Linked DNA regions of Homo sapiens: region 2 is linked to region 1. The links come from fine-mapping of genetic effects on gene expression. A gene starts in region 1. The other region holds a variant in brackets. All regions are shown on one strand. Distances are from middle to middle. Region 1 holds the start of ZNF805 (zinc finger protein 805). Region 2 overlaps ZNF460-AS1 (ZNF460 antisense RNA 1).

What was found. PIP is the estimated chance that this variant, and not a neighbour inherited with it, causes the effect.
Region 2: its variant is the best candidate, but not a certain one, in a credible set for the expression of ZNF805 in whole blood (TOPMed, PIP 0.85).

Annotation. Positions count from the first base shown.
Region 1 is chr19:57,239,241-57,242,152 of GRCh38, reverse strand. It overlaps ZNF805 (zinc finger protein 805), which reads right to left and starts at 1,521. Exons shown (of 4, transcript NM_001023563.4): 1 at 1,232-1,521. The coding sequence starts at 1,261. RefSeq lists a silencer at 1,224-1,293 and enhancers at 1,414-1,683, 1,704-1,923.
Region 2 is chr19:57,268,100-57,271,011 of GRCh38, reverse strand. All of the region lies in intron 2 of ZNF460-AS1 (ZNF460 antisense RNA 1), which reads left to right. Among named protein-coding and RNA genes, the nearest start is that of ZNF460-AS1, 11 kb to the left of the region's middle. The variant C/G (reference allele first, on the strand shown) is at 1,397.

The sequences.
Region 1 (2,912 bases):
CAGGTCGGAGTCTTGACCTCCTCTTGTGTACAGCAGTGTTTATAATAGAATGTCACTTTAAGGAGATCAGGATTAAATGAGATGATAAATAATGCCCATTTCTCAGTTCACATCAAGGACTCAATGAAGGCCAACCGTTACAGTTCTTGTGTTATTATTTATGCTCTTTGTCCCCACAAAATCCTTTAAGACCTCAACTCAGTAGGTGTCTAAAACTTTGCCAGATTCTCTATACAAAAACGCTAGACCAAGGGCAGGTGAGAAGGGGACTACTTTAGTCTGAACTGCCATGAAAGGCCGCTTTAAAGAAGTGACATTTGAGCAGAGCCAACAAGATGTGAAAGGGTCTTGCAGAGATCTGAGGATAGTGTCTGAGGCTGAATGAACTGTAAAGGTGAAGGCTGAGGGGTAGGAAAGAACTCTGCGTGATCAGATTGATATGTCTGAAGGGCTGAGCCAGGGAGGAAAGGAAGGAAACAAGGACAGAGGTGGTCAGCCATAGTGGACCTGTGTCTGAAGCGCTGAGCCAGGGAGGAAAGGAAGGAAACAAGGACAGAGGTGGTCAGCCATAGTGGACCGGGTAGGGACTTGCAGGCCAAGGCTGAGTTCGGATGATGTGTGTGACGGGAGTCCCTGGAGTGGAACTTCATCCATCCTTCAAGCAATTATTAAGCAGCTTTCAGAGGCCTGACACTTTAGCAGTGGAAAGCTGCAGAAGGGCTAACTAGAAGTGGGGCATCGTATGTGATTGGTTAGGCTGAGCACGTATGGCTTTCTCTGCTTGGTCCTCTTTTGGAGGCGGAGGCAAAAATTAGAACAGTCAGTTACAAATCAAGTCCTATTTGGGGCCTACTGTTCCAGGAGTTACCGTTTAGCCTCCTGAAATGTCACCAGAGAGTAATCTAGCTCCTTGCAAGACTAACTTAAGGCAGACTGGCTTCCAGAGTAGTTTATTGCAGAACAGGAGGCTGGTTTCCTGGGCAGGTTGCTACAAAAAAATTGTACGTCACAGCCCTATAATCGATGTATAGTCTGCCTACTGTCCGCTTCAATATTCAGTCTCTCAGGTACTACCACGACAGGAGATAAACTAAGTGACGAGCCTGCTCCACGTTTCGTAAACAAACAAAACTACAAAGAGGAATCCTGTGGCTGTCTTGGCTTCCGGCCTGCCCAGGAGGCTTCCCCGAACTAGCAGAAAAGCAGCAAGGCCGAAACCTTGTCCACTCACCTGCGCCGGGTCCGTCAAAGCCATCGCCATACCGGGACCCTGTGGCCCTAGCGGGGCGGGGGCTGCGGCGAGCAGGGCGGGTCTCGCGGGCTCAGCCGAGCCCCACCCCTTCCCTGCGCCGGGCCCGGTGACCTTGGCTGACAGTCAAACTCTCTCGTTACGGGGAGGCTCACGGTTCGCTCCGAGACGCGGAGGTCGCTGTCGGCCTCCTACCTGCTCATTTCCCCAGCGCCGCCAGGGAGGCGGCCACGGAACACCGCCCCCTCCCTAGAGCCGGCGTGGACGGAACCGTCGCTCCCAAATTACGTCCCATCCAAATGCCGGAAGTCCCGCCCCAAGCTTCGCAACCCACAGGAAACGCCCCTGTCCTGGACCATCATTGGCCCCAGGGCCCGCCGTCGCACCTGGCAATGCCTTGTAGTTAATGTAGTTTTTCTCTACAAACCACCTGCAAAGGGGACAGATCCTGAGCCGGCAGGCCTCGGTGTAAAAGTCGCAGCGGGCCTACAGCCCGGCTCAGACCTGCCTCTGTCCTGGGGGCACAACTCGGAGGCCAGGGACCAAGCGCGAGACCGTCCATTCTTGGCCGGAGGAAATCGAGCCCCAGGAGTCAGGGACATTTGCCAGGGTCAGGGCCAGTGCAGAGACCCTGGACCAGGCTCCGGACTCTGACTTCCACCTTGCATTATTTCCCCTCCGGATCCTCTTATACAGATCAGCGGGCAGTCAGAGTAACCAAAGGGGGACGTCGGGCGGCGCGATGCCTCAGGCCTGGGATCCCAGCGCATTGGGAGGCCAAGGGGGGCGGATCGCTTGAGCCCAGGAGCTCAAGACCAGCTTGAGCAACATAGGGAGACTACCAAAAAAAAAAAAAATTTTTTTAAAATAAGCTGAGTGTGCTGGCGCACACCTGTGGTCCCAGAAGTCTGTGGCAGGAGGATCGCTTGAGGACAGGAGTTTGAGAACAGTCTGGGCGACAGAGCGAGACCTCATTGGTACCAAAAAAAAAAAAAAAAGAAAAAGAAAAGAAAAAAAATAGAGCGCGGTGGCTCACGCCTGTAATCCCAGCACTTTGGGAGGCCGAGGCGGGTAGATCACGAGATCAGGAGATCGAGACCATCCTGGCTAACACGATGAAACCCCGTCTTTACTAAAAATGCAAAAAATTAGCCGGGCGTGGTGGCTGGCGCCTGTAGTCCCAGCTACTCGGGAGGCTGAGGCAGGAGAATGATGTGAACCCGGGAGGCGGAACTTGCAGTGAGCCGAGATCGCGCCACTGCACTCCAGCCTGGGCGACAGAGTGAGACTCCGTCTCTCTCTCTCTCTCTCTCTCTACTTATATATACATATATTTATATATACATATATACATATATACGTATATATACATATGTATATATACGTATATATATGCACATATATATTTATATATATATTTATATATATATTTTTTGAGACAGGGTCTCGCTCTGTTGCTCAGGCCATAGTGCAGTGGCGCGATCACAGCTCACTGCAGCCTCAAACTCCAGGGTTCAAGTGATCCTCCCACCTCAGCCACCCAAGTAGCTGGGACTGCAGGCACGCACCACCACGCCCAGCAAATTGAGGGTTTTTTTGTTTTGTTTTGTAGTTTTTGTAGTCAGTTTCACCATGCTGCCCAGGCTGGTCTTGAACTCCTGTG
Region 2 (2,912 bases), 29 kb before region 1:
GGCCTGGTGGGTTTGTTCCTGTAGTCCTAGCTACTCAGGACACTGAAACAGGAGGATCGCTTGAGACCAGGAGTTTGAGACCAGCCTGGGCTATCTAGCGAAACCCTGTTTCTAAACAAAAAAACAAAAAGTCACAATGGAGACACATACATACCACACACACACACACACACACACACACACAAAATAATAATAATCCAAAACTCCTAAACAATATAGAAGGTTAGGAGTGTTGCGGAGATAAGACAAACTAGAGCAGATTAAGAATCAGTGAGAGTGGGATAAAGCCAGTTGTGCAATACAGAGTGGTTGGGACAGGTCTAATAGGACAGTTAGGCCGGGCGTGGTGGCTCATGCCTGTAATCCCAGCACTTTGGGAGGCTGAGGCAGGCAGATCATGAGGTCGGGAGATCGAGACCATCCTGGCTAACATGGTGAAACCCCGTCTCTACTAAAAATACAAAAAATTAGCTGGCCGTGGTGGTGGGCCCCTGTAGTCCCAGCTACTAGGGAGGCTGAGGCAGGAGAATCATTTGAACCCGGGAGGCAGAGGTTGCAGTGAGCCGAGATCACGCCACTGCTCTCCAGCCTGGGCGACAGAGCAAGACTTCGTCTCAAAAGAAAAAAAAAAAGTGATGTTTTAGCATGGACTTGGAGGAATTAAAGACTCATCAAGTGGAGATCTCAGGAAACAGTGTTATCACTCAGAGAAAACACACAGGACAATGGAACTGACAGAGCATCCTGGGTGTTTGTGGAACACCAAGAAGCCTAGTGCGGCTGGAACTGAATGTGCATGGAAGTTGGAGAGATAGATGGAAACAAATTGTGTAGTCTTTTATGCCAGCGTAGAGAGGTTGTAATATGTTCCTGTGTGTTCAAAAATGTACCTGGGGTTTTTTGCAGTATGGTCTGATAAGAAACTCGGACATGCAAATGATTGCCAGGAAGGAAGAACTTTCAACTCACGGAGTTTTAGAAACAGTAGGCAAAACACATCCTGCAGGGCTATGTGAGAAGCACCAGGGTGGTATAAGAAGCAGAAGCAGAGGAGAAAGCAGAGGCCAGATCCTTTATTGTTTTCCACAGGAAAAGAAAGGCAGGGCTGGGTAACCAGAAGAGGATTTGCTGGTTTGAATAAAGTTGGTAGACTTTGGGGTCTAGGAGCTGTCCCTGTCTGCCTAGTACCTGGCCCTGGAGTCATTAGAGCAAAAAAAAAAAAAAAAAAAAAAAATTGTCTCCTGTAGTGTAAGAGCCAGACAGAGGAGATGATTCACATTAGGGTACTCTGGATTTGTTAGTATGCAAATAAAAGGCATGGTTCAGAGTGAGTCATTTGCAATCTCTAAGAATCAGTTAACTCTAAATGGCAAGGTCCCAAATTCCATAGCATCAA[C/G]AATGCAGAAAATAAGAAAATATAGCTAATACACTGTGAAATGGGTAGCCATCATGGGGTTTTGAGCAGAGCTGTGATGTTATCTGATTTATGTTTTTGTTTGTTTTTTGAGACGGAGTCTTGCCCTGTCGCCAGGCTGGAGTGTGATGGCGTGATCTCGGCTCACTGCAACCTTCTCCTCCTGAGTTCAAGCGATTCTCCCACCTCAGCCTCTGGAGTAGCTGGGATTAGAGGCATGTGCCACCATGCCCGGGTAATTTTTTGTATTTTTAGTAGAGACAGGGTTTCACCGTGTTAGCCAGGATGGTCTCGATCTCCTGACCTCGTGATCCACCCGCCTCAGCCTCCCAAAGTGCTGGGATTACAGGCGTGAGCCACTGTGCCTGGACTGATTTATGTTTTAAAAGGATCACTCTGGGTAGTCTATGGAAATTGGAATATGGGAGGGGCAAGAGGGAGAAGTCCTGTTAGGGAGCTCTGGCTCTTTCCAGATGTGCAAGGTGGAGGATAACTTAAGCCAATGTAGTGAGAGGGGAGGTGGTTTACCACAAAGTACAATTAACAGTAGATCAAGGAGAACAATGAGTAATTGAATTGATACAAATATATGGAAAAGTATGAATGGCTTTATGGGATGGATTGTTGTTTCTAAATCTATCCATTCCCCACACGAGCTGCTCCAGTGGCTCAGCATGTTCATGATGATACTGCTGATATATCTTATATAAATGTTATACTAAATGTAGATGCTCAGTAAATATGATTGTTTTGCTGTAAGAGATTCTAGGCTAGGGCCAGGGCTTTGGTTATACACGAAAGTGTGAACTCATCAGGCTTCAGTTGCTCAGATGCTATACATTCTAAAGAAAGAAATGGCCCTTGATCAGCTCCAGGAAGACAATCTCTGAGTTTCTGGAATATTTTGCCTGGTAAAAGTAATTTTTAAGCCTGAGTCCATAGGCCTTCATGTATCGATTTGATGAGATAATTTATTCTAAGAACATTGTTACTGAAAAGGGGTCCCAATCCAGACCTCAAGAGGGTTCTTGGATCTTCCACAAAAAAGAATTCGGGGTGAGTCCATAATGAAAGCAAGTTTATTAAGAAAGTAAAGGGGCCAGGCGCGGTGGCTCACGCCTGTAATCCTAGCACTTTGGGAGGCCGAGGAGGGTGGATCACCTGAGGTCAGGAGTTTGAGACCAGCCAGGCCATCATGGCAAAACCCCATCTCTACTAAAAACACAAAAATTAGCCGGGCGTGGTGGCACATGCCTGTAATCCCAGCCACTCGAGAGGCTGAGGCAGGAGAATCGCTTGAACCCGGGAAGCAGAGGTTGCAGTGAGCCAAGATCATGCCATTACACTCCAGCCTGGGCAACAGAGCAAGACTCCGTCTCAAAAAAAAAAAAAAAAAAAAGGAATACAAAATGGCTACTCCATAGGCAGAGCAGTAGTTTGGGCTGCTGGACTAAGGCTACTTATAGTTATTTATTGATTATATGCTAAAGGAGGGTTG